4 linked regions of the Homo sapiens genome follow. The protein of the gene in region 3 interacts with the protein of the main gene of each other region in a pairwise test. Each region holds a gene or a part of one and is shown on either strand. Other genes may lie near its edges. The genes, in order: TPCN2, GDE1, ADRA1A and ANO8.

Region 1 (7,845 bases), on a different chromosome or scaffold from region 3:
CAGAACCCCCGACCCTTCCCTCCCCTGGGGAACAGGCAGAGGGGGAGTCTGGGCAGCCTTGGGGGGGGGCCCAGTTCCCCACAGCCTGGGGGCAGCCCCTCACCCCCCAGGAATGAGAGGATTGGTCAGACTCCCGGGACAGGCCGCACAGGAAGGAGTCTGACGGGCGTGCTGCGCAATATGCTGGGCCGCGTTTCTCCTCTGTGTGTTGGGGGCGCCCCCAGCTCCCCCTCAAGAGGGTTTAGGGTCTGCTGTCCTGGGAGTTGCCATCTCTGGCAGTGGCTAGAGCAACAACACATGTGCATCCCCGGCTGATCCACAAGAGGTGGCAACCCTGCCCTCCCGTCCCACCAGGGGCCTGGCCAGCAAGGGTCACCCAGCTGCTCATCTCAAGCCACACCCTGCTTGGCCTCCCGGCAGCTCCAGGCACAGCCAGCATTGGGGAGCTCGCTCACCATCAGGTAGCCCCGGAACTGACTGTAGATGATGGCTGTCAGCAGGTTCATCAGAAACAGGCTTCCTTCAAGAGGAGACAGCCACGGTCAGGGGCGCCACCAGTACAGCAGCAAAACCAACGCAAGGGTGGCCGGCACAGGATAGCACAGCGCCGGGGGCGTCCCCTATCAAATGGAAACATGGCCTGGCCAGCGCAGTCACAGGTGGGAGGATGACGAGGTCAATGGTGGGGACAGAACAGAAAGTGTGGGGTGGGGGATCCCTGGGGTGAAGCTGTTGGTGGGGGATCCCTGGGGTGAAGCTGTTGGTGGGGGATCCCTGGGGTGAAGCCGTGGCATGGGGGATCCCTGGGGTGAAGCTGTTGGTGGGGGATCCCTGGGGTGAAGCTGTTGGTGGGGGATCCCCGGGGTGAAGCTGTTGGTGGGGGATCCCTGGGGTGAACCTGTTGGCGGGGGATCCCTGGGGTGAAGCCGTGGGGTGGGGGATCCCTGGGGTGAAGCTGTTGGTGAGGGATCCCTGGGGTGAAGCTGTTGGTGGGGGATCCCTGGGGTGAAGCTGTTGGTGAGGGATCCCTGGGGTGAAGCTGCTGGTGGGAGATCCCTGGGGTGAAGCTGTTGGTGGGGGATCCCTCGGGTGAAGCTGTTGGTGGGGGATCTCTGGGGTGAAGCTGTTGGTGGGGGATCCCTGGGGTGAACCTGTTGGCGGGAGATCCCTGGGGTGAAGCCGTGGGGTGGGGGATCCCTCGGGTGAAGCTGTTGGTGGGGGATCTCTGGGGTTAAAAGCTGTTGGCAGGGGATCCCTGGGGTGATCTCTGGAGTGAAAAACACGGATGTGAAGTTTCAGGTCGTGGAGGCAGCAGGGTGTATCGGTCCCTGAGCTCTCGGGATCCTGTCACAAAATGCTGGCCACGTTACCTGCACTCACCTATCACAGTGAAGACTATGAAGAAGATGGCATAGGCCCGGTTCTTGGAATACGCAGGAATCATCACTAAAAGAAAAAAGAAATAACAGAAACTGACAACCTCAGTACCTGATCCCACTCCCATCCTGACGCTACACTATTTGCTTTTGCAATAGAAAGGAGGTCTCCATTGCTGAGCGTGGTGGCTCACGCCTGTAATCCCAGCACTTTGGGAGGCTGAGGCGGGTGGATCACTTGAGGTCAGGAATTCCGAGACCAGCCTGGCCAACATAGTAAAACTCCATCTCTACTAAAAATACAAAAATTAGCCAGGTGTGGTGGCTCATGCCTGTAAACCCAGCTACTCGGGAGGCTGAGGCAGGAGAATCACTTGAACCTGGGAGGTGGAGGTTGCAGTGAACCGAGACTGCACCACTGCACTCCAGTCTGGGTGACAGAGCATGGCACCATCTCAAACAAAAAAAAAAAAGAAAGAAAGAAAAAAAGAAAGAAAAGGAAAAAAAAGAAAGGAGGTCTCCTGGGAGGGCTGAAAGGCCTTCCTGTCCAAATTCGATCTCTTGCCTCTGCTCGCACACCCTCCAGGACGGGGAACTCCCTACCTATCAAGGATGTCCCTCTGCACACAGAGCTGAAACCTCCCTGCAGCCCTCCCCACAGTCAGTCCTGCTCCCCCTGCAGTCACTTCCTAGGACTCAGACGGTCCTGCTCCCAGTGCGGTCACTTCCTAGGACTCAGACGGTCCTGCTCCCAGTGCGGTCACTTCCTAGGACTCAGACGGTCCTGCTCCCAGTGCGGTCACTTCCTAGGACTCAGACGGTCCTGCTCCCACTGCGGTCACTTCCTAGGACTCAGACGGTCCTGCTCCCACTGCGGTCACTTCCTAGGACTCAGACGGTCCTGCTCCCAGTGCGGTCACTTCCTAGGACTCAGACGGTCCTGCTCCCAGTGCGGTCACTTCCTAGGACTCAGACGGTCCTGCTCCCACTGCGGTAACTTCCTAGGACTCAGACGGTCCTGCTCCCAGTGCGGTCACTTCCTAGGACTCAGACGGTCCTGCTCCCACTGCGGTCACTTCCTAGGACTCAGACGGTCCTGCTCCCACTGCGGTCACTTCCTAGGACTCAGACGGCCCTGCTCCCACTGCGGTAACTTCCTAGGACTCAGATGGTCCTGCTCCCACTGCGGTCACTTCCTAGGACTCAGACGGTCCTGCTCCCAGTGCGGTCACTTCCTAGGACTCAGACGGTCCTGCTCCCACTGCGGTCACTTCCTAGGACTCAGACGGTCCTGCTCCCCCTGTGTCACTTGCTAGGACTCAGACAGTCCTGCTCCCACTGCGGTCACTTCCTAGGACTCAGACAGTCCTGCTCCCACTGCGGTCACTTCCTAGGACTCAGATAGTCCTGCTCCCCCTGTGGTCACTTCCTAGGACTCAGACAGTCCTGCTCCCACTGCGGTCACTTCCTAGGACTCAGACAGTCCTGCTCCCACTGCGGTCACTTCCTAGGACTCAGACAGTCCTGCTCCCAGTGCGGTAACTTCCTAGGACTCAGACGGTCCTGCTCCCAGTGCGGTCACTTCCTAGGACTCAGACGGTCCTGCTCCCAGTGCGGTCACTTCCTAGGACTCAGACGGTCCTGCTCCCAGTGCGGTCACTTCCTAGGACTCAGACGGTCCTGCTCCCACTGCGGTCACTTCCTAGGACTCAGACGGTCCTGCTCCCCCTGTGGTCACTTCCTAGGACTCAGACGGTCCTGCTCCCACTGCGGTCACTTCCTAGGACTCAGACGGTCCTGCTCCCACTGCGGTCACTTCCTAGGACTCAGACGGTCCTGTTCCCACTGCGGTCACTTCCTAGGACTCAGACGGTCCTGCTCCCACTGCGGTCACTTCCTAGGACTCAGACGGTCCTGCTCCCACTGCGGTCACTTCCTAGGACTCAGACGGTCCTGCTCCCAGTGCGGTCACTTCCTAGGACTCAGACGGTCCTGCTCCCACTGCGGTCACTTCCTAGGACTCAGACGGTCCTGCTCCCACTGCGGTCACTTCCTAGGACTCAGACGGTCCTGCTCCCAGTGCGGTCACTTCCTAGGACTCAGACGGTCCTGCTCCCACTGCGGTCACTTCCTAGGACTCAGACGGTCCTGCTCCCAGTGCGGTCACTTCCTAGGACTCAGACGGCCCTGCTCCCAGTGCGGTCACTTCCTAGGACTCAGACGGTCCTGCTCCCACTGCGGTCACTTCCTAGGACTCAGAGGACACAAGAGACAGCACTCAGGGTCCGCAAGATGAAAGGCACCAGCCAGGGTGGCTGGGCCACAGCCAAGCCCAGGACCGTGGCCTCCATCCTGGCCACACCTGCACCTGAGCAGTGGAGGCCCCATGAGCATCACACAGGGTGAGCGTCGTGGCCAGTAAGACCCTTGGCCCTCACATGCTGCTGCCCAGTGGCTCCCACAGCTGAACCTCGGCAGCAACCGCAGCGTGGATGTGTGGAGCTCCAGCAGGACGGCACCAGGAGACCCCTCTGACCACTGCCATCATCGCCCTATGAAGAACACCAGCCACTTTCAGCTTCTCAGAGGAGTGAGTAGACAAGGAGGAAGAGGAGATGAAAAGAAAAAGGGAGGAGGGAGTGAGAAAGCAAAGGAATGAGACAGAAAAGGAAAGAAGGAAAGAGAAGGGACAAGAGAGAGGGAGAAGAAAACCAAGACAAAAAAAGAAGAGATAGGAAAAGAAGGGGAGGAAGGAAAATGTCACCCTTTCTTCTCCACTTATCGAAAAAAAGGCCTCAGAAACTCCCACTGGGTTCTAAGGCTCAGCAGCCCAAACCGGCCCCCCAGTGCTGGGCTCACCGACCCCCACGGTCCCTCCCTGGCCCTGCACGCACCATCGGGGTTGTTGGCCGTGGTCAGCAGCACCAGGAGGGAAGTCAGAGACTCAGGCAGGTTCTGGAAGTAGGTCAGCCTCTCCCTGTCCTGCCCATCATCCTGCTAAGAGCAGAAGCGGCAGCTCCAGGGCACCACTGGGTCCCCACCCCACAGGCTGAGCTCCAGGCCCCGGACCCAACCGGCTGGAACCATCCACCCGCCGCCCAGCCTGCATCTCCCTGTGGCCTCCCAGCAGGCTGAGCTCATGGCCAGACAGGACCAAACTCAGGATCTCCGGGCGCAAGAGTGGGCACCCAGGGAGACCGCTCACCCGCATGGACACGGTGCCTGGAAGCAGGCCGGCTCAGAACCACAGCAAAAAGCCCTCAGCCAGCCTAGTGACCTCCCTCAGGCCACCTCGCCTGCTCGCAGCCGACTCTGCCATGCACTGTGCAAGCAGTGAGGCTACGGGGCAGAGGCAGGAGGGGCAGGAGGAGCAGAGGGGCCCAGGCTGCCAGGGTGAGATAGGTTGGACCCTTCGTGAAGCCTGCTCTAGAGGCTGTGTGTCAGGGCCCACGGCCGCCCATAGCCACCCACGGGACTCAGTGGCACTGTGCTCGTGGCTGTGGCGAATCACAGCCATTGGTAAGGGGGCATCCACACCGGAGTCCCTATCCTCTCTCCCTCCTGAGAGGGGTCCCAGCCACAAAACACAGCTGGCACATGCAGTGTTTCTGCTCGGAAAGCAACTCTGCTTGAGACTCCGGGCCCGGGGCTCTCACTGGGGCCAGGCTCATGGGCACCCTCTGCCTACCAAGCCTCCAGACCCCCCAGCTGGAAGATGGGTGGTTCCCGCAAACCAGACTGGTTGTATGAACTGTGGGGGCAGGTGGCACAGCGGGACTTGGCACACAAAGCAACCTCCTCTCTTAGGGATCGTTTCAAAGCCACAATCCCAGCTGCTGGCCAAGGGGCAACCCCGCAGGCAGGCCCTGGCATGGAGGCACCTGTGATGGCCACTCTCTGTCGCACAGGCCGCCCTTCCTGCCTCACAGCCGCATCAATAGCACTGAGGCCTCCAAGGCCTCACCTATAAAATGGCACTGTCCCCTCGTCTGTCCAGTCAGGGGCTCCCAAGGACACGTGAGCTAATTGGTGAAGACTCCACAGTCTGCTGGGGGAGGGGGCACAGGGGCCACTGAGAGGAAGTTAGAAGGCAGGGAGCGCTGTCAGGCACAGAGCCACGGGTAGGGACAGGCTCCCCTGCTGGGGAGAGCTAGGCGGGCCCCTCCTGGGCCTCAGCCCAAGCCAGAGTGGAGGAGCAGAGCAAGGCCTTCCGAGGCCTGGAGGGCAGGCTGGCCTCCAGCAGTCACCGGGGACGGCAGGACCACAGCACTGGGTCCAGGCCTCCCGGGCATCCCCCGTCCCACCCTCACCCAGTCAAACCACCACGTTCCCAAATGTAAAGCAACCCACCGAGCGCCCATGGAGCAAGGTTTAGGGCCAGGCTTCGAGCCAGCTGAGGCACACCACCTAACAGACGCTGAGGTCCATAGAGCCGACAGAACTCCCTAAGGCAGGTGGCCCTGCCCCGGCCCATCTCCCACCCCACACTGTGTACCTCCCAGCAGGCCTCACGCTCCTCCTCTACAATTCAGCTCCAGACCCTAGGCATGACTTCCCGTACCTCCTGCCCAGCCCAAGCCACAGCTCTGCAGGGACACAGAGGAGCCCTGGGCTCCTGCCCAACCTGCCACAACCAGCGACGATGGACCCGAGCCAGCCCACAGCCCCGACCTGAGAAACATCTGTAAAATGGGACAGCACCATCACGGCTGCTGGGAGACCACACACCCCAACACCAACCCTGGTTCTTGGAAATCAATCCAGGTTGGAGCTTCACAACGAGCAAAGCCAGCAGAGGACAAGCAGGCTGGCTCTGGACCGCACTCACAAAGGTAGCTAAAGCAAGGCGGCCGCTGCACCCAGAAGCACAGCCTGGCTACCGCCCCAGGCCAGGGTGGCAGGGCATGATGGCCAGGGAAGGAAGGCAGGATGGGCCGGGTACCATCCCACGCTCCTCTCAAGTCCTGCCTCGGACAGGGATCCAGACTCCTGCCAAGACCACGACAAGCACGCACCCCTCACACAAGGTACACCTTGCTCCCCTAGGTCCCCTTCGTGGGGCAGAAACCCACGCCTGGAGGAGGAGCCAACCCTTCCAGGTGCCTCAGGATGGGACACTCGGCTTTCCCGGGGTCGAGGACCACACCCTGGCCTCAAGGCCGAGGCTGTTGCCACTTCCAGCACCCACACTGACGCCATCCACCTGGTACAGGCTCTGGCAAACAGCGCTACTGCAGGGGTCACTGGACGGTCACACAGAGGAGGGCCTGAGATTCTGTCAGCCGGTTCCATCTCCACAACCCAGCTGCCCCCACCACCCACAGACAGGCACACAAACACACACATACACACAGAGATACGCACACACATGCACACGCACACAGCCATACAGACACCACGCACGCAGAGACATACAGACACCATGCATGCACACATAGACACACCACACACACGACACCACACGCACACACAGACATACAGACACCATGCACACAGACACCACACACGCACACAGACATACAGACACCATGCACAGACACTACACATGCACACATACAAACACACACACAGACATACAGACACCATGCACACAGACACTACACATGCACACATACAAACACGCACACAGACATAAACACCATACACCTACACATACAAACAAACATGCACACAGACATGCAGACTCCACACACACATGCAGAGCCACACAGGGGCTCAATGACCGCTTCCGCCCTGGGTGAGAACGCGGGCTTCAGCCTTCCCCTTCTGGACAACACACACCAAACCCCAACACGGCCACAAACAGGAACAGCAGCGCAGGCTGAGCACTGTCCACTCCCACAACAAAGCAGCAGAGATGCAGCGTGGCCCCAGCCCCAAGAAGGATGGTGCCCTCGGCCAGGACAGGAGGACAAACACATAGCACTGGAGCGGGGTTGGGGGACAGGAAGACGCCTCCACACAGCAACGAGCTGCTGGGCCCCGGGGCAGCCGCAGAGGAGGATATGGTGGGAGAGACTAGTGGCAGGAGAGGGCGTGGGAGGTGAGGGCCCTCCCAGTAGGCCAGCGCAGCCTTGGGGGCTGCAGTCAGAGAGGGTACAGGGCAAGCCTGGTTGTCAGGAAGGATGAACAGGGCTGGAGGAGAAACCAGAGGACCCACCCTCAGTGAATAGCCTGGCGGGGAAGGGCGGGGAGGGGCGGGGGATAGGGAGGGGGGAGGGAAGTGGGAAGGAGGATAGGGGAACTGAGTCAGGATGGGAGGGAGCAGAGGAGGGTGGGAGCGGACAGCCAGGACAAAGGACAAGTGGCCCTGAGCCCAGGAGACCCCAGGGCAGACAGGTGTCTGGGCAGTGGGGTGGTGGAGCACTGTGGCCACCCAAAGGCAGACTCCTGGACCCCAGATGGGCCACTGCTATTACTGGACAGAGTCCGCACATGGGTTAGGCCAGGGCAGCAGACACCAGCCCAG
Region 2 (7,845 bases), on a different chromosome or scaffold from region 3:
CCAAAACCCAGGATGCCATGAACCTCCTCTACACTGTCCCAGCTTAAAACATTTCAGTAGCTCACTAATGATCGCCACCCCCAAATGTCCTTGGCACAGCCACTGAAGGTGTGCCTGACCTGGCCCCGACCTGTCTCCTTGGCTTCATCTCACACCACATTCCCCCTTTCTTTTCTGTGCTGATTAATTTTAAATTAATTGAAAGAATATTAATTTTCTTTCACTTCCTGGAAAGAACCATGTTCCTTCCTGCCAGAGCACATTACATGTATTTTTCTCTCTGATCTGGATTCCTCCCAATTCCCACTCACCCTTCAGATCTTAGCTTAACTGTCACTTCCTTGGGGATGCTGTTTCTGACAACCCAGACCAGATTAGATTATAGCCCATGCACAGTTTTCTCTGACATAGCCTGTATCTTAGTTTTAACTTTATATTGATTGGATTTTTATTTGATTAGCATCTCTCACTCTCCCACTTGGCTATAAACGTCACGAGGGCAGAGATCATGGCTTTGATTCTTTACCCACTGCATCTTCAGCTTCTCAACATGGAACCTTGCAATAGTATAGGCACTTACCAAATATTTATTGAACTGAATCATGTATGTCTGAAATAATACTAGACCTACAACTCTAATTAGCTGAAATATACAGATACAGAATTGCCAAAGAAATGATTCCGAGATCGCTAGCAGGTTAGGAAATGGAAATTTTATGGGGAGAGGTGGGGGAGTGCCTATAACATAAGACGGTAGTGGGGAGGCTGGTGCCCACAGGATGTCTTCACTGTGGTTCTGCCCAGGATCCTGTGTTGGCTTTCAAAAAAACCAGTCACAGAAATAAAATCCCTTGCTCAGCATAGTGTCACAGGTTCATTTTTTTTCTTCAAAATACACTAAAAAACCGAAAATATGTGATCGACTCGGTCTGAAAACAGTGAAATATGCCTGAACTCTTCCCACCTAAGAAGCGAAATTGGTAATCCAATTTAGAGGTATGGTAAGCTTTGCAGGTCAGAACCAATTCAGGTTGTCTACTCTGTTAATCCTTCCTTTCAAATAAGAGCATTCAGGATGTCTGTCTGGGTAAAATAAAAAACCTTCCAACTTACGGGGATACAAAATCCTTTTGCATGAGGAAAGCTGAAATTCCACACAGGTACCACAAGATATTATGCATGCTCCAATCGAGCAAAATGTCCATCATAACAAATATAAAATGTTTCCAGAAAGTATCATAGCGTGGTTTCCCATCTCCTGTATGGCTTAGGCTCCAAGGTCTGTGAGTTAATGCTGTTATTACATCCCGATCTGTTTGTCTCATCTGCAAAGGAATTTGGGGAAGTAAAATAATGATCATATGTAAAGTTGAATACTTATTAGTTTAGATTTAGCCAATGTGCTCAATCAGATGAGGTGGTCATGGTTGGTACCCTGCCCCGGTATCTACTAAATAAGTTCTCAATCATAAACCCTTTGAGAAAATAATGTGAAGAATGTAAAGCACTAATATGCAGCACATATGAGAACTTTTTTTTCCCAGTCCTTAAAAACTGCAATCCTATCTTTAAAATGGAAAAATTAAAACTTCAGGATCAAATTTTAATAATGTCATGAGAATAAACTTTTAATTGGCTATTGACTTAAATCCTGGCCAGAGATAATTAATTAGAACTCAATGAGGAGGGAACCAAGGTCAGTTCAAGATGGGCTGTTTAGTTTTGACCCTTTCCAGAGCAAATGGCTGAAGAGTTGTAGGGGTGAGGAGGGGGATGGGGAAGTGAGGTGGGAAGGGAGAGAAGGGATTGTGACGAGAGAATGGGAGAGGACAACAGAGAAATGGAGAGATGTGGATGGAGTTCCTTTAGTCTCTGCTCTTGTGCTCCTCTGGGGGAATGTCTTATACGTTTTAAAGGACTCTGTGGTCAAGGAAGTTTGGGAAACACTGTTCCAAATGTCTGCAAGCCCCATGACCCTATTCAACTCCATGACAGCTTCTATTGATAGGCTCTATCCTCACTGTAAAAATTTTCAATGTATGCTCTGTTGGTCACTGGTAAAGAATGCTACGGAACCAGCTTGTTATTCTGGAAACTGGTAAATAAAAGGAAAGATAAAGCATTTATTCTGCCTATTTGGTAACTAAATAGTAGAGGAGGAAAAGTTTCTTTTTAAAGATCTATTTCAGCTAATGCAAGAAGTAATAGAATTAAAATATCAGCATTTTGTAGCTCCCTAGAAAATGGACAGATCTGGCCAATGAGCATCAATAGCAGCCAAAAACAACAGGAGTCAACCAGATGTCAAGTGCCTCCTGACGGAAAAACACCCTCATCTCTAGAGTTATCTTGCCAAGAATAACCAACCCTAACCTCATCAAGGCAAGCTTCCAGCTCTCGCTACCAGTTTATAGAAAATAAAGAGAAAAAAATATTAAGCCATATCATGGCATAATCAGCAAAATTTGGACTTGGGTAAACTCTACAAAACAATAATCCGGTTTCTTCAGTAAATACAAAACAAGGACCCCCCCCAAAACAAACAAACAAAAAAAACAGAGAGAGAGAGAGACAGAACCTGCAAGTTTTAAGATTTACAGTTGCCGGCAGGGCATAGTGGCTCACACCTGTAATCATTTTGGGAGGCCGAGGCAGGCAGATCACCTGAGGTCAGGAGCTCGAGACCAGCCTGGCCAACATGGCAAAACCCCGTCTCTACTAAAATACAAAAAAAATTAGCCAGGCATGGTGGTGTGTGCTTGTAATCCCAGCTACTCAGGAGGCTGAGGCAAGAGAATTGCTTGAACCCGGGAGGCAGAGGTTGCGATGAGCCGAGATCATACCACTGGGCGACAGAGCAAGACTCCGTCTCAAAAACAAACAAAAAAAGATTTACGATTGTAACACGCCGATCTTACTTGGGTCCTATTCGAATGAGCAATTTATGAAAAACAACCATTTATGACATTTCCGAGACAAGTCAAAATTTATACACTGGATATTTGATGATATGAATAATTTATTGTTAATAATTTTTAGATGGGACAATGGCATTGTGGCTATGTTTTTAAAAAGGCATCACTAGGCTGGTTACTGTGGCTCATGCCTGTAATCCCAGCACTTTGAGAGGCTGAGGTGGAAGGATTGCTTGAGCTTAGGAGTTGGAGAACTGCCTGGGTAATACAGGGAGACCCTGTCTCTACAAAAAATAAAAATAAAAAATTAGCTGGGCGTGGTGACGTGCGCCTGTGGTCCCAGCTACTTGGAAGGCTGAGGCAGGAGGATCATTTGAGCCTGGAAGGTCAAGAGTGCAGTGAGCTGTGATCACACCACTGCACTCCAGCCTGGGAAACTGAGGGAGAACCCGTCTTTTAAAATAAATAAATAAATAAATAAATAAATAAATAAATAAATAAAATGGCATCACTTTTTAAAGATTCTTAATGCAATTTTATGGATGGAATAAGATTTGCTTCAAAATAACACTGGGGAGGATCAATGGGGTTATGGGTGAAATGAGCTGGATCACAGTTAAAGGGGGGGTACACTACTACTTTATTTTATGCATGTTTTAGATTCTCCATAATTAAGAATTTATTTTATGAAGGTATGTTCTGCTGTTAGTTGGTGAGAAGTAGGGGCTACATAATTCTTTTCTGTTGTGAGAATTTTACTACAGTAATCTGAGTGAGCCTATAAACAACATAAAAGAAGGGGCAAAAGAGGAATAATGGCATTCTGTAAGGGGTATGAGTACATTCCCCTTCTGGAATTTCTCTGGTTAATTTAAAAGAGGAGCTTCTCAACTGTGACCCTGATGCAGTTCAATTTAATAGGCATCTATCCTGTGCTTACGCAGCCCATTGCAATTATCTACACCAGCTCACCTAATATGTACAAGAAAAATCCCGAATGTTACCTTGTAGATAACTTCTGGCAAGAAAGAACAGACCACACTATTATTATACAGTTGAGGAAATTCCATATACATTTTCTTTAGAGCCTCAGTAGCCTGTAAAATAAAGAGATTCATATATTTAAAATTGATTAAAATGTGATAGATAGCCCCAGCCAATAACTATCACATATTAAGTACAACCCTATGGAATAAAACAGAAGTTTACTAGAAATGGAGGTACTGAAAGTATTGGTAGAGTCTATTATCCACTGGGATGCATTTTAAACTCACACCAGCAGCAAACAAGGAAGAAGGTGGAGTACTGCTGCTTTACTCCCTCTGAGGGCCTCACCCCTTTTGGAATACTTTTGAAAAGTGTGGTAAGCCGTAGGTCAGATGAGGCCAGAGGCAAAATTTTCCTTGCCTTATACCCTAGTTTAGCCACTATGAAAAGTCCTTTCATACCCACAGCTCTATCACTCTGTGCCTTTTCTAAATGAAACATGAGCCAGCCAGTCTGGGAACTACAGAGGATAGATTTCTCAGTCCAGGGGACTGAGAGGACGCATTACCCATCACCAATATGGAGGGAGAAGTAATGGGGCAAGGGTAGGAGGGACTGGGAAGAGTTAAGGGGCTCCCAATTCTTCCCAAGGTGAACAGAAGTTTCTTTTTATAGTAGTCTAGCTACGAAATGAAGAAGACATGATAGAATTTAAGTATTATTTGGTAACCCCTAGTGAAGTGACATCAATAGCAGCTAACAACAAGAAAGTCACCAGCCATGTGGGACGCAATGCTGCTGCTGCATAATTTGTGAAACACTGCTAATTTTTGGAATGTTACACATACCCCTAACCAAATATGATGAGCAAAATGCATTCCCCCACCAAAATAAAAAAGGACACAAATTATCCATGTCATGCCTCCTCTTCGCTAATGCAACTGAAGGCAAGCTATAGAAAGCATTTTTTTTTCTGTTTGAACAAAGACATGCACTGTAAACTCTTAGCATTTACATTATTTAATTCTCACAACAACCTTATGTGGTAACTGCTTTTAGTATCCCCATTTTACCCATGAAGAAACTGAAGCTCATCAAAGTTAAGGTTACCCTGTAGTAAGAGCTCAGTCAAGGACTGTTGGAGTCCCAAGCCCATGATTTTGGCCACTGTGCTCTACTAGCTCCACTTTGTTGCCTACACTTGTGCCTTTCTACTACCATCTTGGTGAATTAGGTCACTATGTTCTACCCAGTCTTGGCTGAACACCCATGAGCACCCATTCAGAAGACTCAAATAGCTAGATTTTCTTTTTTAAATGTCTACTTCTTTTTAAAAAGTATTCTAAGAGAAGCCAGGCGTGGTGGCTCACACCTGTAATCCCAGCACTTTGGGAGGCCAAGGTGGGCGGATCACTCGAGGCCAGGAGTTTGAGACCAGCCTGGCCAACATGGCAAAACCCCATCTCTACTAAATATACAAAAATTAGCCGGGTGTGATGGCACATGCCTCTAATCTCAGCTGCTTGGGAGGCTGAGGCAGGAGAATTGCTTGAACCCCGGAGGCAGAGGTTGCATTGAGCCGAGATCGCGCCAATGCACTCCAGCCTAGGTGACAGAGTGAGACTCTGTCTCAAAAAATCTAAGAGAATAAGCATAAAAGTCAGTATACCATGGGTGAAATGTAGGACCTATCAGGGTTCCCAAATGTGGGCTGCAACATCAACAATGAGCACCTGAGGTGCTCATTAAAAATACATGTTCCTTGAGCCCACCCTAGACATTTTCAGAATCTCTTCCCTAGGGAGAATGGCCCAGGAATTTATATTTTAAAATAGGTACAGGTGATTCTAACGCAGACCAATTGGAAAACCTAGACGTATACAACTATCGGTTTACTAGAATAATAAATTAGTTACCATTATCTTCCTTCTTCAAAAATAGGAATTAACTGTTAATAAAATTAGAGTGTATACTTAGGCTCCACATTTCAGGTTTTTTTTTTTTTTTTGAGACGGAGTCTCGCTCTGTCACCCAGGCTGGAGTACTACTGGCGCAATCTCGGCTCAGTGCAACCTCTGTCTCCCCGGTTCAAGCGATTCTCCTGCCTCAGCCTCCCGAGTAGCTGGGATTACAGGTGCCCGCCACCAAGTCCAGCTAATTTTTGTATTTTTAGTGGAGACAGGGGTTTCACCATGTTGGCCAGGCTGGTCTCGAACTCCTGACCTCAGGTGATCCACTCCCAAAGTGCTGGGATTACAGGTGTGAGCCACTGCACCCGGCCCATTTTGGGTTTTAACAACTGGTTTCAATGATATCATGGGATTAATTAAAAAAAAAAATTGGCATCATCAGAATTCTCAACCAGTAGATGGCCCTTACCGATTATTAATATTGCTAGGGGAAAAATACTCAAGTTGCCCAAATGGGGAAAAAAGTACTTGCACTTGAAAAGCTGGTTATAAGAGAACAAATGTAATCAGAATCATATCTTCCCACTGATTTTCACTGTAATAATATGTTCTTATGAGTGTAAGTGCAGGCCCTAAAATTTAAGCAAAATTTTATCTAGGAATGTCAAATACATTTGAAGAAAATAAATGATTTTCTGATAAAAGTATAACTGCTAAAATCAATGAATAAAAAACTATACATAAGGGATATAAATTATACAAAGGGATAAATCTATGTAAAAGGTATATGTTCTGTTAACTATTAGAAGCTTTTAATATAGGAATTCTCTTTAAATGCAGTCCATAGTTGTCCATATAAGGCCCTTAACTTTTAAGCTAGATAAAATTGGTCTTGTGTACAACTTCGGAATTCCTTTTTTTCAAGTAACTCAAGGTTACTACAGTGGTTTTTTTCTAGAAATGTCTTTTTTACTGTTTACTTAATATCTTTTGTAAATGCTTTATGTAAATAATAGAAACTTGACTCTTCCATTTTATGCTGGTTTTGTAAAGTTTCCATAAAAGGTTAAAAAGTTCCATAATGCACTGTTTCCTTAAATGATATAGATTCCTGCATTGTACACTTCCATTAAACAAATACAATTTATAAAAATAAGTTTTAAAAAGAATAAATAACAAAATATATGTAACTTCGGAAATGACCGTCAATGAAATAAGATGTCTTTTTAACAAAGTGAAGTCCACAATTTAAACTGTACCTTGTGTGCATGGCCTTTGACATCAAAGAAGATTGTGAGGTTATGGTTTAGGCACTCTGCAACAGCTTCCCTTAGGGTAGGGATCTTTTCATCAGGGAAATCATTCCTGTAAGAGAAGAGAAAATACGTTGTAGGAAAAAAGAGAAACAGATAAACTGTATTGCAACAAACATTTTGCATATGTCTCTCAATCAAAAGGAAAGAGTGTTTTCTCCAACTTCCTTTTTTCGACCATAGCAAAGTCCAAAGATACTTTACTTTAAGATTTTTTTTTTTTTTTTTGAGACGGAGTCTTGCTCTGTTGCCCAGCCTGGAGTGCAGTGGTGCAATCTCAGCTCACTGGAACTACCAACTCCCAGGTTCAAGCAATTCTCCCGCCCCAGCCTCCCAAGTAGCTAGGACTACAGGCGTGTGACACCACGCCTGGCTAATTTTTTGTGTTTTTAGTAGAGGCGGGGTTTCACCATGGTGGCCAGGCTGGTCTTGAACTCCTGACCTCAAGTGATCTACCTGCCTTGGCCTCCCAAAGTGCTAGGATTACAGGTGTGAGCCACTGCGCCTGTCCTACTGTAATAATTTGAACCAAATTATAGATATTCTTTTTTCCACATTTTTATTGCTATACACTTAGACATATTTTTGTGATATGCGCATAATGTATAATGATAAAATCAGGGTATTTAGGATGTCCATCACCCCAAATATTTATCATTTCTTTGTGTTAGGAACATCTAAATCTCCTAGCTATTTTGAAATATACAACAGATTGTTAAC
Region 3 (7,845 bases):
GGACAAAGTGACTCCCTGGCCAACAGCAACAGAGCCAGTGTCACTGGAGCCAGGAAACAATGGAGTCATAGTCAAACCCTCTCTGACTACTATGACATTTGTAAGCCCCTAGGCGTGGTCAGTATCTTAGAGGGCAGATCTGAAAGGCCCTGTGCTGTGGTCTGAATGTTTGTGCCCCACCCCCGAAATTCCTATGTTGGAATCCTGGCCCCCAGTGTGATGATATTAGGAGATGGGGCCTTTGGGAGGTGATGCAGAAAGAGGCCCCAGGGAGCTGCCTCACTCCTTCCACCAAGTGAGCACACAGCTAGAAGGTACCATCCATAAAGATGAAGGTAGGTCTTCTTCAGACACTAAATCTGTTGGTACATTGAGCTCAGACTTCCAGCCTCGAGGATTGTGAGAAATAAATTCCTGTTTACAAGCCACCCAGTCTATGGCATTTTATTATAGCAGCCTGAATGGACTAGGACACCAAGGCATCCAAGAGACTGAATATGCAAAGATGATGCATAAATTATTGGATTTGAATGAGTTTATTAAATTTAACTAAAAGTGTGTGTGCATGCATGTGTGTGTGTGTGTGCATGTGAGTGCATGCATATGTGTATTTCCATGGAAGTTTGTAGAAAAGATCACATCCGTTTTTGGAAAATAAGCTACATCTTCTTGGCACATTTGCATATAGTGTGAGAAGACTGGCAACCCAGGATTTGTGATAAATAAGTAATTATTTATCTTCAATGTATAAAATGAGCTTACCGATAAAAAAAAAAAGACAGAAAAACTGCTGTATAAAAAGTGGCCAAAAAGCACAGATAGGAAATTTCACAAGAGGAGAAATATAAGTGATGGATAAAAATATAAAAAGAAATGTTCAAATAAGAACACATGACACGGGGAGGGGAACATCACACACTGGAGCCTGTTGGGGGTTGGGGGGCAAGAGGAGGGAGAGCATTAGGACAAATACCTAATGCATGCCAGGCTTAAAACCTAGATAATGGGTTGATAGGTAAAGCAAACCACAATGGCACATGTACACCTATGTAACAAACCTGCATATTCTGCACTTGTATCCCAGAACTTAAAGAAAAAAATAAGAAAAGAAAAGAAACATTCAAATAGCGAAGAAATAGAAAACATAAAAATGAAAAGCCACTAGGCAAGTGTCAAACTGGCAAACCAAATAGCAGGGCTAAAATACAGTAAACTTGTTAGACAAAGAAAATGCCTTAGAAAACTGTCCTCATATCCACCATGAAACCATGAGGTGACAGAACACAGCAATGACTTTGTTACTAAGTGACTAAGGATTATTACTCCATCCAAGTAATAACTCACTTGTCTATAGCCTGACTTGAAAGAGTCAGCTATTGTTCAAAGCATTGTTAGAGCTCATTGTTGATGTCTTCTGAGCCTGCAGCACGTTCTTTTGAAAATGATGGTAAATCTTCATTGACAGATTTGTCTTGTGGAAAGAGCCAAAATTAATTTAAAGCCAAGTCTGGTTATACTATTTCTGATCACGAGAAAGCTTTTCTCATAAATCTAAGCTCTGAAGGCAGTGACAAAAGAGGCATTCCAGAACGATGTGGCAGCTCACGGAAATAAGTTTTTTAAATGGCACGGTAGAAGGATTGCACTTGGCAGGATACAGCTCCCCTTGTCCTGCATAAAGGTCTCCCAACTGGTCTATCCACAATCTTGTTTTCACTAAGCCTTTGATAATCTTGAAATGCTGTATAAACTCTATCATGTCATTCCTGCTCATCTTTGGATAAAAACACAAACTTGTATAATGGCTATAAAGCCTTGTTTAGTCTGGTTCTTCCCTTTCCAGCTTCACTGGACACCAGTTATCTCTTGGCCTCTTGTTTCTGGCCACAGTGGCCTTCTAGAAAGTCATTATGGACATTAAGCCAGCCCCACTAAAGTCTTCGCACGTTCTCTTCCCTCCCTCCCCATTTTTGCCTTTAAACACCTACTCATTCAATAGATCTGGACTTAATAGTCAAGCCCTCCTTCCCAGAAAGACCTTTCTACCCTCCCAGTCCAGGACCACCCTTAGCCACAGGACATATTTTCAAGGCACCATTTATGTTCCCTTCATTGCTCTGTACACGGTTTTCGATAACTTAGTGTGGCTATCTGATTAATGTCTATCTCCTTCTGGAGATTAGAAGCCTGCAGGGAGGCAAAGATCCCAGTTGGTTTTACTCAGTGCATTGCATGAAGCCTGGCATATGGGAAGTTCTCAATATAACTGATGGATTAAAGAGAAATGTAATTTGGCACACTTGTGAGGTCGGTGATCTGCAAGAGGACTACAATGATCTGCCCCTCTGTGTACACACTTGCTGCTCTCCCATCAAGAGATGAGTCTGTCTCGCTTCCCCTTGAACCTAGGCTGGTCTCCTGACTTGCTGTGACTGCAGAATGAAACAGCAGTGATGCTGGACCAGGTGTGAGCCTAGCTCTTCAAAGGCCTCACAGTTTCTGCCTTGACTTTCTTGGGGGAGAGCTGCCATGCTATAAGAAGGTGGTTTAGAAGGGAACAGAGGCCACCAAGACTCACAGCCAGCTTCAATTGCCAGGCAAGCTGGGTGCTGACGTACTTTTGACCATAGAATCATGAGACATAGATGGCTGCTGCTTTAAGCCACTACCTTTTGGGATGGTCTGTGGTGTAGTAAGAGTAACTGAAACGCTGGCTTCTTATCTTAAAATAAATTCTAGCCAGGTGTGGTGACTCATGCCTCTAATCTCAATGTTTTGGGAGGCTAAAGAAAAAGGATTGCTTGAGGTCAGGAGCTCAAGACCAGCCTGGACAACACAGCAAGATCCCATTTCTATAAAAATAAAATATAAAAATTAGCCAGGCATGGTGGTGCATGCCTGTAGTCCCAGCTACTCAGAAGGCTGAGGTGGGAGAATCACTTGAGTTCGAGGCCGCAGTGAGCTATGATTACCACTGAACTCCAGTCTGGGTGAAAGAATGAGATCCTGTCATTAAATAAATAAATAAAATAAAATAAATCCTAATGGCACTAGTTTTTCTTCACACCATTATCTCTAAGAGGTGAACCTTTTCCATGAGAACTAGGGAACTGCTCCCTTTGTACCTGCAGTGAAGCAACCCTCAACCCCTGGTTATCTTGGGCATCCGCAGAGGGTTTGGGATTATCATATATCATTGTATGTACTTGTCCTTTTTCCTTGTCATTTTTCATATACCTTTGCTAGGTATCTAATTGTTCAGATGTTCTGCTCCATTAGGGCAGGGATTTATTTGTCTTTATCTCCAGTGATTCTATAGCTTCCTGGCAAACAGTATATGTTCAATGAAACTGCTGAATGAATGAATGAATCATTCTCTGCCTCATTGCCTCCACCTGATAAATCCACTGCCAGCTGTGCCCTCCTCAAACATCCAATCTTAAAACACATTTTTCTGCTCTATCAATGTGCTGCCTCCTGTTCTTTTATAAACATAATCCTCAAATATTCTATGTCTATGTAAGCCACATCTCAGCCCAATGCTGCCTCCTTTGATTCAGTGGCAACAGCAATCAATGGCTTAGGTCCTATAATAACGCTGGGTTTTGTGTTTAAATCAGATAACATATCCAGAATTCAGACACGTAACTATGTTTTCAGTGATTGTTGCCTTTTCATCTTCTTTCCAATGCTTTCTATTTCTTAGAATGCCAAGGACATCCACCCCTCATGGCAACATCTGCATGTTGACATACATCAGTAATGGTCTGTGAATCATTTGAATTCTGGTAAGATGAACATTTATTACCATTTACTCTGAGTTAGGCACTATGCTGGGCAGCTGACCTATATAACATCCCCTGTTATATGAAAAAGAAAGCCTAGGTTTAAATCTCAGGCCAACAGTTTCTCCATTCAGCAGCACACTGCCTCTGGAACTAGTGGGCTCTAGACAATGAGATGAAATCAACAAAGATGATTCATAGGCTTTAGATGCTGGAGCTTCCTGAGAAGCAGAGTTCTTATCCTTCCTTCTCTTTCGTAGGTTGAAGGCTGACACCGTCATAGTCTCTCTACTCATCTCCATGGCCAAAATTTGCTTTTGAAAGCATTTGCTCCAAAGTATAAATGACTGTTAACAACTGCACATGGCACCCCCCTCCCTTGAAGGCATTCTGAATTTCAACCAAACATTTAGGATGCAAAAATGGAACAAGATTAGCAAGATTTAGACTTGGAAGCAGGCAAGTCAGATTCCTCCCAACAGTCATGCTATTCAATGCAGCAAGCAACCCAGCCTTAGTGGAAAGAAGCTTGGGAAAAGGGAACGTGAGACTTCTCACAATATACAGGAAGGACCTTTGCAGTCAAATAGCCTACTCACCTGATTTTCCTGGGTCAGTCCCTATTAAACATGGGTGTTTCACTTCTCAGCTGTGGATAGCACACTCATCCCTGCCCTGGTTTCAGTTTTTAATCTCTTTCCTCTCCCGCAGCCTAGTGCAGACCGACAGCCCTTTTCTCCAAAACAGCACGTCATATTTAAGAATGTATGTCCCTTGAATATAATAATATGATAGTATATTTATTCTTCTGCTCACATTTTGCATGAAAAACATACTTAAGACAGTTAATAAAAAAACATATAACATCTCGTTGACGACCCAGCAGAAGTAGTGCCATCTTCTTTAAGTCTCTGCTCTGTCAATGGTCATGCATGTAGAAGCTTCTCAGTGACCTCTCGGCACAATGAACTGCTATATTCCTTAGCACACTGTAATAATATCATTCTGAGCACCATCCTGAGCACCATGTAATAATATCACTCTGAGCACCTATGTCATAGACTTGCAATAATTGTTGACAATTTGTCTCCTTAACTAGACTGTGAGGCCCTTGAGGGCACTGTGTTTTATTCATCTTTTTTATTCTGTGTAGCTGAGAGCCTGGTGCTTATTACATAGCCAGTACATTCTTGGAGGAAATCATCTCTTACTCAATTGGTGTCAGGAAGAAATTGAGAGCCACAGACTGGCAGGTTCAGGGATCCTTTGCACTACTGAGCAGCTACTCAGACCCTGTGAACTGTATGTTCCCTACTTCCCTCCTGTCATATCATTTTTCTTTTTTTTTTTTTTTTAGACAGAATCTCGCTCTGTCACCCAGGCTGGAGTGCAGTGGTGTGACTCAGCTCACTGCAACCTCTGTCTCCCGGGTTCAAGCGATTCTCCAGCCTCAGCCTACCAGGTAGCTGGTATTACAGGCGTGCACCACCATGCCCAGCTAATTTTTGTGTTTTTAGTAAAGACAGGGTTTCACCATGTTGGCCAGGCTGGTCTCGAACTCCTGACCTCAAGTGATCCGCCTGCTCAGCCTCCCAAAGTGCTGGGATTAGAGGCATGAGCCACCGCGCCTGGCACCTCACTAGGATTTAAAAGAAGCCCAGTGATTCCGAGGGCTCCTGTCTACCACCACTTCTCTCCACCACAACATCTTCTCCTCCACACTGCTGACTCCCTGGGAGAGCAAATCCAAGAGCGGGCTATGACTAGTCAGAGCATCCACCTCCCCTAGATGACTCCAGGACCCAGGCCATTGTTTCTCATCTCTATGCATAGCTCAGCCACCACTGCAAGCTCCAAACTCTCAGGCCACCCATCGTCACCTGGGCTCCTTCTACAACCTGGCTGTGGATGCTCCCTAACCTGACCGAGTCTGTGTCTCTTCACACACACACTCTCTGGGACTCACAGTAGGTCCTCAGCATTGCCTCCTGTATCCCTCAGCTGCTTAGCTCTTAGAGAAAAACACACAACCCTCCTTCCCGCTGTACTTTAATGTTATGACCGTAAATCTCAGATAGGCCTTCAGGACTTCCCAGTGACTCTACCAAACTTCCATAAAATGTTTACTGTCCCACTCTCAAAGATGAATCTTTCACACCTTCTCTGAGGCTAAAACTGCCATCGTTCCCCATTCCTGACTCTCTCTTAGCTGATGACCTTGCTTCATATTTCACTGAGGACATAAACATATCCTAAAGAGATCACTATCTCTCTCCCTCTGTCTCTACTTGCCTCAGGGCTCACACACTTTGCTCTCCTTGTCACTTCCCAATGCTCCCCTTGGGCACTGAATCCCGTTGCCTCTTTTGCCTATCCCATCAGTGCCTCTCTCTATCCCATCGTTCCCATCAGAATATAAATATCATGTCATATCCCCACCTCCCACCATTGAAAGCTCTCTCTATACCCCTCCAGCTACACCGCATCTCCTAGCTCCAGTGTATAGCAAAACCTTTCAGAAGAGTTGTCTATTTTCCCTGTTCCCACTTTTTTTATCCTTTGTTCTTTCTAGAAAGTACACAATCAGGCTTTTGGTTCCATCACTCCTCTGGACCTGTGAGCCTCACGTGCCTTCCTCCTATCACTAAAAACCTGCTTACTGCCAAATCTAGTGTTGGCTCCCAGTCCTCCTCTAACCTGACCTCTCAGCTGCATGTGACACAGCTGATTACTCCTGCCTTCTTGAAACATTTTCACTAGGCTTCCAGGACATCACATTCTCCTGATTTTTCTTCTCCCTGGCTACTCCTTTGCAATCTTGTTTGCTGGCTGTTTCTCCTGTTTTTCCTGACCTGACCCCCAGAGGCTCTGTTTTTTTTTTTTTTTTTTTTAGATGGAGCCTCGCTCTGCACCCAGGCTGGAGTGCAGGCATGATCTCGGCTCACTGCAACCTCTGCCTCCCGGGTTCAAGCGATTCTCCTGCCTCAGCCTCCCAAATAGCTGGGACTAAAGGTGCAGAGGCTCTGTTCTTATCTCTCTTTACTCTCTTTATCTTTTCTCTTGTCAACCTCTCCATTCTTGTAGCTTTAAAGATGTTGATATATCCCAAGTTTATATCTGTAGCCCGCCTCCTCTCTAAGCTCCAAATCTATGTAAAGTGTATAACTCCCTACTTGCCATCTCTACTTCCATGTCTAATGAATGTTTCTCAACACAGTGATACAAAAGAAAGGCTCATACTTCTCACTCCCTGCAGCCCCTTGCAGCCACATAACTCTTTGGTTTTGCCAGTTTTAGTGAAGTGCATTACTATTTACTCAGCTATTCAGGCCCTAAACCTACCTATTTCTCACACCCTTGTCCACACTCATCAACTTTACCTGTAAAATAAGTGCTGAATGTGATCACGTCTTACCACCTCTACCTGTCTCACCTGAGTCCAAGATGTCATGACCTCTCTCCCCTCGACTTCTAATAGCCTTTTAACTAGTCTCTGCTTCTGCTCTTGCCCCCAAACAGCCAATTTTCCCCCCAACAACCAGAATGATCCTTCAAAAATATAAATGAGACTGGCCACTCACCTGCTAAACACCCTTGAATGACTTCCCACCACAATTAGAATAATATGCAAACTTTACTTTGGCCTGAAAGACCCCATATGACTTTGGTGTTGTCTATCTCTCCAATCTCTTCTTGAACTTGACTGCCCCCTCCCTGTCTGTAGTTGAGCCATACTGGCCTCTGTGATCTTCATTGAACAGGTCAGGCTCTTTCCCATCTCTGTACTCGCTGCTCCCTCTGCCCAGGAAGCTCTTCTTCCCAGATCTTGCAAGCTTTGCTCTTCAGTCCAGTCAGGACTCTGCTCAAATATCACCTCTTTAGACAGAATTTTCCCCACTACCCACTAAAGCAGGCCCTCATTGTCTTTGTCACTTTCTAGCCTCTCATCCTGTTGATTTTTTGATAGTGCATGTTAATCTTGACATTTTAGGATACAATCATTTGCTTATGTCTACCCTTTCCAAATACAACCGTCTCATTGGCAAGGACTTTTCTGCCC
Region 4 (7,845 bases), on a different chromosome or scaffold from region 3:
TACAAGGACGTGGAGGGAGGAAAATAAGCCAAGCCCAGAGCTCCCGGGGCCTTGAATGCCAGGTGGAGTGGTGAGGAGCCCTGGCGGGGGCAGGAGGAGCCAAGACTGGAGGCCGGGTCCGGATCCCAGAGTGGCCTGACCCGGGCCTGCTACGCCGCCCCCTAGATAAGCTTTTCGGAAAGCGGCTCCTGCAGGCTGGTCGCTACCTGGTGTCCCACAAGGCGTGGATGAAGACGGTGCCTACAGAGAACTGCGACGTGCTGATGACCTTCCCAGGTACCCAAGCCCGCCCGCCCGCCCGCCCAGTGCCCAGATGCGGCTCTCCTGAGCTCGGCTTCCCAGAACGGGAATACGTAGGAGGCCTTGGGCCCCCTCGTGGCAGGAGCCATCGGTCCCTGTGCCCCTTGGCAGACACGACCGATGACCACACGCTGCTATGGCTGCTGAACCACATCCGCGTGGGCATTCCCGAGCTCATCGTGCAAGTCCGCCACCACCGCCACACGCGTGCCTACGCCTTCTTTGTCACCGCCACGTATGAGAGGCGAGTCCCCTGTCCCTGGCCTCTCGCTGAGCCTGCCACCCGACTCCCCGCTCTACCAAGTGCCAACCATGCTATCCAGCCGCCCTGCGTTTGTCCCAAAGGCTGCCAGGTGCACCATCCTCAGCTCCAGGATGGTGGGCCGGGGCCTCCCTGTGAGCCCACCTCCTCCGCCTTCTTCACAGCCTACTCCGAGGGGCCGACGAGCTGGGTCTGCGCAAAGCAGTGAAGGCCGAGTTTGGCGGGGGCACCCGCGGCTTCTCCTGCGAGGAGGACTTTATCTATGAGAATGTGGAGAGCGAGCTACGCTTCTTCACCTCCCAGGTGAGGCCGGCTCTGGGCCCCCGCATGCATCCTGTGCCTATGAGTTCCCTGAGCTCACGCCCTCTTCCTCGCAGGAACGCCAGAGCATCATCCGCTTCTGGCTGCAGAATTTGCGTGCCAAGCAGGGAGAAGCACTCCACAACGTGCGCTTCCTGGAGGACCAGCCAATCAGTGAGCAGGGCGGGGTCAACACCAATCACAGGCAGAGAGTTGGGTGGAGCTCTTCAAAGACAGCTTATAGGAGCAGGAGGGCGGGGCCCAGATCCAACCAGTCAGGGGTTGGCAAAGAGTTAGGAAACCAATGAGCTAAAGGGGTGTGGCCTTAGCAAAAGGGTGGAGCTTATCTCCTGAGTTGGGTGGAGCTCTGAGAGGACAGCTTATCAGGACAGGAGGTCAGGGCTTATGTCCAACCAGTTAGGGGTTGGCAAAGGGTTGGGAACCAATGAGCTGAGGGGGCGAGGCTTTGGCCAAAGGGTGGGGCTTATTTCTGGGAGGTGGGTCCAGGAGAGGCCCTTTTCTGGGTTTGGGATAAAGTGGAGGCAGGAACCATGGACAGCACTCCACTTACAGAGTGGTGCGGCTCTGGGCGTTGGATTCCCCTCCAGGAAACTAGGCACCCAAGTTCACCTTCCGACAGCAAGTTTTTACCATTCCTCAGACGTTCGGGTCCACAAACTGAGCTTTATTTAAAGCAGGGGAACAGGCGCAGTGGCTCCCAGTACTTTGGGAGGTCCAGGCGGTAGCATCACTTGAGCCCAGGAGTTCGAGGTTGCAGTGAGCCATGGTAGCGCCACTGCATTCTGTCCAGCCTGGGTGACAGAGCGAGACCCTGTCTCAAACAAATAAATAAATAAAGTAAAAAATAAGGCCGGGCGCGGTGGCTGACGCCTGTAATCTCAGCACTTTGGGAGGCTGAGGCGGGCGTATCACGAGGTCAGGAGATCGAGACCATCCTGGCCAACATGGTGAAACCCCCATCTCTACTAAAAATACAAAAATTAGCCAAGTGTGGTTGGCGCGCGCCTGTAGTCCCAGCTACTCGGGAGGCTGAGGCAGGAGAATCGCTTGAACCCGGGAGGCAGAGGTTGCAGTGAGCTGAGATCGCACTACTGCACTCCAGCCTGGTGACACAGCTAGACCCCGTCTAAAAAAAAAAAAAAAAAAAAAAAGCCGGGCGCGGTGGCTCACACCTGTAATCTCAGCACTTTGAGAGGCCGAGGCAGGTGGATCACTTGAGGTCAGGAGTTTGAGACCAGCCTGGCCAACATGGCGAAACCCCGTCTCTACTAAAATACAAAAATTAGCTGGGCGTGGTGGTGGGCGCCTATAATCCCAGCTACTCCGGAGGCTGAGGCACGATAATCGCTTGAAGGTTGCGGTGAGCGGAGATCACGCCACTGCACTCCAGCCTGGGCGACAGAGTGAGACTGTCTCAAAAAAAAAAAAAAACATGGTTCCTCACCAGAACCCCACTCTCCCAGTTCCTTTACATTCTCCCCGCCTGCCCCTGCACCTACAATTTCTGAAGGAGAATCAGATCTTCTATCCGTCTAGAACTTCTCCCCTGGAAAGAGCTCTAGAGGTTTAAGAGCAGGCAAAAAGCTGTGACTTGGGTTTCAGACAAAGAGGGGCTAGCCAGGCTAGGCACAGGTGGAGGGGCGGGGATCACCTGTGCTCCTCCCTCCACAGTCCCGGAGCTGGCAGCACGTGGGATCATCCAGCAGGTGTTCCCTGTCCACGAGCAGCGTATTCTGAACCGCCTCATGAAGTCATGGGTGCAGGCCGTGTGTGAAAACCAGCCTCTAGGTGCTGCCTGGGCTGGGGGGTGGGAGGGAGTCCCAGCAGACAGGCAGGGGGTGACTGAGACCCACTTGTCCCCTGGCAGATGACATCTGTGATTACTTTGGTGTGAAAATTGCCATGTACTTCGCCTGGCTGGGCTTCTACACGTCGGCTATGGTATACCCAGCTGTCTTCGGGTCTGTCCTGTACACATTCACAGAGGCTGATCAGGTACTGGGCAGGGACCCTGCAAGGTCTGGGGGATCCAGAGGCGCCCTCCTTTCTGGACTGGCACAAACAATGACTCAACTCTTCTCTGCCACTCACAGACAAGCCGGGATGTTTCCTGCGTGGTCTTTGCCCTCTTCAACGTGATCTGGTCGACGCTGTTCCTAGAGGAATGGAAGCGGAGAGGGGCTGAGCTGGCATATAAGTGGGGGACGCTGGACTCACCTGGGGAAGCCGTGGAGGAGCCACGCCCCCAGTTCAGGGTCAGTTGGGGGCTGAGTCCAGGGTCATGGAGACAGGACAAAGGTAAATGGTGGGGGGCACTGCAGGAGCAAAGGCAGAGAGGTGTGAAACAGGATTGTTTCATCAAAGAGGGTATGCCAAACCGAGGCGGGCTCTGTGTGCTCCCCAGGGGGAGAGGTGGAAGTTGGATTTGAGGGACTGGGAACAGTGCCCTAGGTGGGTGACCTGAGAGGGTCACCTCCGCATGATGGAGGGAAATTGAGTTCTGAGGATAGGGAGGGGTGCAGAAGGCAGAGGTGGCCCCTCTGAGCTCATGCTGGGCCCGGTCTTTGCCCACCATCAGGGCGTGCGACGTATCAGCCCCATCACGCGGGCCGAGGAGTTCTACTACCCGCCCTGGAAGCGGCTGCTCTTCCAGCTGCTTGTGAGCCTCCCCCTGTGCCTGGCGTGCCTCGTCTGTGTCTTCTTGCTCATGCTTGGCTGCTTCCAGCTGCAGGTGACCCCCCATACCCTCACCCGCCCTGTCCTTGGTACCTAGCTCCACCTTGGGCTGAGCCCTGCAGCTGGGATGAGCCCTGAACCCCCTTCTCCCGCAGGAGCTGGTGCTGAGCGTGAAGGGGTTGCCCCGTCTCGCCCGATTCCTGCCTAAGGTCATGCTGGCCCTGCTTGTCAGTGTGAGTGCCGAGGGCTACAAGAAGCTAGCCATCTGGCTCAATGACATGGGTACGACCTGCCAGGGGGTCTCTGGGAGGAAGGTCTCCACTGCCCCTTGGGATCCCTGCCACCCTTGGGGGGACCGCGGCTGCCCCCTCACTCCCCCCCTTGGCCCCTAGAAAATTACCGGCTGGAGAGCGCCTATGAGAAGCACCTCATCATCAAAGTTGTCCTGGTGAGTCACCACCATCGGACAGGCAGGGGGACAACGGGGAAGCTGTGCCGTCTGTATGGGGCACAAGGAAGGCTCCAAGGAGTCGGGTGGGGGTGCAGGATGACCACCGCCTGCCTCCTTCCTGCAGTTCCAGTTTGTCAACTCGTACCTGAGCCTCTTCTACATCGGTTTCTACCTCAAGGACATGGAGCGCTTGAAAGAGGTGAGACCCCCGCCCCAGCGGCAGTCCCCCCTGCCCCCATGGCGGCCAGCGAGGGGCCAGACCCGGCACAAGGGGTCCAAGGGCTCTCCAGCCCCTCCCTCCCCTCCTCCATCCTTCTCTCCTGTCTGTCCGTCCGTTGTCCGTCGTCTGTGCGTCCTCTCTCTGCCTGTCGTCCCCCCATCTGTCCGTCCATCTGTCCGTCGGTCCCTTCACAGCTCCTGCTCGTCCTGTCCCTGTCCCAGAGCCTCGAGCGGCAGCTGCAGGCGGTGCTGGTCCCGCTCGCGGCCCTGCGGTTCCGCCTGCTCCTCCTCTCCCTCCGGGGCCTCCTGCTCGCGGCCCGGGCCAAAGTACGGGCAGGTGGCGAGCCCGTGGGTCCTCGCCGGGGTGGGCAGCGTGGCTGTGCTGGGGGCCTGGCGCGCCGAGCTGAGGGCGCATGCGCGGAGGGAATCTGGGGTCGGGGGCGGCCAGCAAGCAGGTGCAGGCGGCTGGGGGCGCACGCGGCCCAGTGCACCGACAGAGCCCGCGGTGGGGTGGAGACGCGCTGGGCCTGCCCGTGAGGTGGGCGAGGAGCGCTGCGCGTGCCAGGCTGTATTTTGTGGCTGAGCGCTGGGGGCCTCGCGTCGAGGCGCGTCCAAAGCAGCGGAGTTAGGAACCGGATTCGGCGTGTGTCTGGGCACGGTGCTCCGGCGGGGCGCCCAGGGAGGGTGAGTCCCCCGATCCCGGCGCCCCGCTTGCCCCCCACGCGCCTCTCTCCTTCCCCTTCCTGCCCCCAGATGCTGGCCACGCTGCTGATCACCCGCCAGTTCCTCCAGAACGTGCGCGAGGTCCTGCAGCCGCACCTGTACCGGCGCCTGGGCCGCGGCGAGCTGGGCCTGCGGGCCGTCTGGGAGCTGGCCCGAGCCCTGCTTGGCCTCCTGAGCCTCCGGCGCCCTGCGCCCCGCCGCCTCGAACCCCAGGCGGATGAGGGCGGGGGCGGCGGCAGCGGGGGCGGGGGCCGCAGGTGCCTCAGCGGGGGCTGCGGGGCGCCGGAGGAGGAGGAGGAGGCGGCGCTGGTGGAGCGGCGGCGGGCGGGGGAAGGCGGGGAGGAGGGGGACGGGCCTCCAGGGGGCAAGGAGGAGGACGAGGACGACGAGGAGGAGGAGGACGAGGAGGAAGAGGAGGACGAGGAGGAGGGCGAGGAAGGGGGCCTCCTGGACTGCGGGCTCCGGCTGAAGAAGGTCAGCTTCGCTGAGCGCGGCGCGGGGCGGCGTCGGCCCGGCCCAAGCCCGGAGGCCCTCCTGGAGGAAGGGAGCCCCACTATGGTGGAGAAGGGGCTGGAGCCGGGAGTGTTCACCCTGGCCGAGGAGGACGACGAGGCGGAGGGGGCTCCCGGCAGCCCTGAACGGGAGCCCCCGGCCATCTTGTTCCGCCGGGCCGGGGGCGAGGGCCGAGACCAGGGGCCCGACGGGGGCCCGGACCCGGAACCCGGCTCCAACAGCGATTCGACCCGTAGGCAGAGACGGCAGAACCGGTCGTCTTGGATTGACCCGCCGGAGGAGGAACACTCGCCCCAGCTCACCCAGGCAGAGCTGGAGAGCTGTATGAAGAAGTACGAGGTGAGGAGGGGGCGGGGCCTCGCAGGGGGCGGGGCCTCGCCGGGGACGGGACACACCGTCCGAGGGTGAAGGCCGTGGGGGTGGGAGTGGTGATAACAGGGCCATTGATGTTGGGATGCTGCAGGAGAGGAAGGCCTAGCCAGATACAGGAAGCCTCTGGGCTGGCTGAGGATGGGGACAGGCCCTGGGTCCACATGGGATAATCTGAGGGAGGCGGGCTCAATGGGAGAAAGATTGTCCCAGGGAAGAGGCTTCCAGGTCTGAGGCCCGCCCACTCGCAGGACACGTTCCAGGACTACCAGGAGATGTTCGTGCAGTTCGGCTACGTTGTGCTCTTCTCGTCCGCCTTCCCCCTGGCGGCGCTGTGCGCCCTGGTCAACAACCTCATTGAGATCCGCAGCGACGCCTTCAAGCTGTGCACCGGGCTGCAGCGGCCCTTCGGCCAGCGCGTGGAAAGCATCGGCCAGTGGCAGGTGGGGGGAAGCCAAGAGATCCGAGCTGAGGCCCAGAGGGAGCCCAGGTGCAGCTGGGAGGAGCCTGGGGTCTGGGGAGGCCGGCTGGACCCCGCCTGAGCCCTCCTGCCGCCCTGCAGAAGGTGATGGAGGCCATGGGTGTCCTAGCGATTGTGGTCAACTGCTACTTAATCGGCCAGTGCGGGCAGCTGCAGCGCCTCTTCCCCTGGCTGAGCCCGGAGGCAGCCATCGTGTCGGTGGTAGTGCTCGAGGTGGGGCCGGCGACAGGGGCGGGGGCAGCTGGGAGGCGAGAGGGCGGCCCCAGCGTCTGCAGCCTGCAGCCTCCTCTCTGCCACCCCTGCAGCACTTCGCTCTGCTCCTCAAGTACCTCATCCACGTGGCCATCCCCGATATCCCGGGCTGGGTGGCCGAGGAAATGGCCAAGCTGGAGTACCAGCGCCGCGAGGCCTTTAAGGTAGGGGGGCCAGGCTGGGCTCGGTTTTCTCATTGGTGGGGCTGCTGGTGGATCTCTGATCTTGGTGGCCAATTCCTTAGCGTAAGGGCAAATGCAGAGACTGCACAGAGCTGGGTATAATAATTAGTGCTCCCTGGCTGGGTGCAGTGGCTCACTCCTATGATCCCAGCGCTTTGGGAGGCCAAAGTGGGAGGATCGCTTGAGCCCAGGAGTTTGAGGCTGCAGCTAGCTATGATTGCGCCACTGCACTCCAGCCTGGGTGATGGAGCAAGACCCTGTCTCTAAAAAGAGTAATAATAAGCAATAATAACTAGTGTTCACAACGGGTCCAGTCGCTTCTGGAATCCTGGCAGCATCCAGCACGAGGCTGGCCCTTCAGAACCTTCAGCCATCCACCAGCTTGCCCGATTGCATCCTGTTAGGGGGCCAGGGACACAGCGGAGGCTTCCTAGAAGCGCAGCTTCTTCCGCATTCCTCAGAAAGCTACAGAATGGGCCAAGGAGCTCCCCAGTGCCTGCACAGGGAACATTCCTCGAGGATGACAATGTCCTTTGTCTGCACTGTCCCTGCAGCCTTTAGCTACAGGTGATAAGTGAGCACGTTGAAGTGCAGCTGCTGCGACCGAGAAACTGAATTTTTATTTTATTGAACAGAGCCTCGCGTGGCTACCTGGGTATAGTCTGCTGCAGCCATAGTCCTTTTTGTTTTTGTTTTTGTTTTTTCTTTGAGACAGAATCTCTCTCACTCTGTCATCCAGGCTGGAGTGCATGGAGTGCAGTGGCACAATCTCGGCTCACCGCAATCTCCACCTCCCAGGTTTAAGCAATTCTCATGCCTCCCAAATAGCTGGGATTACAGGCATGTCCCACCACGCCTGGCTAATTTTTCTATTTTTAATAGAGATGGGGTTTCACCATGTTGGCCAGGCTGGTCTCCAACTCCTAACCTCAAGCAATCTGCCCACCTCCCAAAGTGCTGGGATTATAGGCGTGAGCCACCGTACCCAGCCTGCAGCCACGGTTCTGTCTCTTGCCTGTTCTCTGGGAAGCAGGGGATCGGTTGAGGCTCAGGATTGGTTTCCACTTTACCAATTCCTAAGACGCTGTCTGGCACA

Evidence for each region.
Region 1: the proteins of ADRA1A (region 3) and TPCN2 interact in a two-hybrid assay, tested with the Homo sapiens proteins (one large-scale study listed by BioGRID and IntAct).
Region 2: the proteins of ADRA1A (region 3) and GDE1 interact in a two-hybrid assay, tested with the Homo sapiens proteins (one large-scale study listed by BioGRID and IntAct).
Region 4: the proteins of ADRA1A (region 3) and ANO8 interact in a two-hybrid assay, tested with the Homo sapiens proteins (one large-scale study listed by BioGRID and IntAct).

The regions. Positions count from the first base shown.
Region 1 is NC_000011.10:69,064,031-69,071,875, reverse strand, and holds part of TPCN2 (two pore channel protein 2), read right to left. Parts: intron 4,374-7,845; coding exon 4,271-4,373; intron 1,447-4,270; coding exon 1,381-1,446; intron 521-1,380; coding exon 456-520; intron 1-455. UniProt on the Homo sapiens protein: Intracellular channel initially characterized as a non-selective Ca(2+)-permeable channel activated by NAADP (nicotinic acid adenine dinucleotide phosphate), it is also a highly-selective Na(+) channel activated directly by PI(3,5)P2 (phosphatidylinositol 3,5-bisphosphate).
Region 2 is NC_000016.10:19,503,768-19,511,612, forward strand, and holds part of GDE1 (glycerophosphodiester phosphodiesterase 1), read right to left. Parts: intron 7,178-7,845; coding exon 7,072-7,177; intron 4,013-7,071; coding exon 3,920-4,012; exon of another isoform or gene 3,888-3,919; intron 1,326-3,887; coding exon 1,114-1,325; intron 1-1,113. UniProt on the Homo sapiens protein: Hydrolyzes the phosphodiester bond of glycerophosphodiesters such as glycerophosphoinositol (GroPIns) and glycerophosphoethanolamine (GroPEth), to yield a glycerol phosphate and an alcohol.
Region 3 is NC_000008.11:26,854,648-26,862,492, forward strand, and holds part of ADRA1A (alpha-1A adrenergic receptor), read right to left. Parts: intron 4,559-7,845; exon of another isoform or gene 4,385-4,558; intron 4,136-4,384; exon of another isoform or gene 4,046-4,135; intron 3,789-4,045; exon of another isoform or gene 3,707-3,788; intron 929-3,706; exon of another isoform or gene 1-928. UniProt on the Homo sapiens protein: This alpha-adrenergic receptor mediates its action by association with G proteins that activate a phosphatidylinositol-calcium second messenger system. Its effect is mediated by G(q) and G(11) proteins.
Region 4 is NC_000019.10:17,326,121-17,333,965, reverse strand, and holds part of ANO8 (anoctamin-8), read left to right. Parts: intron 1-165; coding exon 166-276; intron 277-411; coding exon 412-544; intron 545-726; coding exon 727-865; intron 866-939; coding exon 940-1,036; intron 1,037-2,554; coding exon 2,555-2,671; intron 2,672-2,750; coding exon 2,751-2,878; intron 2,879-2,976; coding exon 2,977-3,138; intron 3,139-3,461; coding exon 3,462-3,614; intron 3,615-3,714; coding exon 3,715-3,841; intron 3,842-3,951; coding exon 3,952-4,007; intron 4,008-4,134; coding exon 4,135-4,209; intron 4,210-4,982; coding exon 4,983-5,804; intron 5,805-6,085; coding exon 6,086-6,277; intron 6,278-6,396; coding exon 6,397-6,528; intron 6,529-6,620; coding exon 6,621-6,731; intron 6,732-7,845. UniProt on the Homo sapiens protein: Does not exhibit calcium-activated chloride channel (CaCC) activity.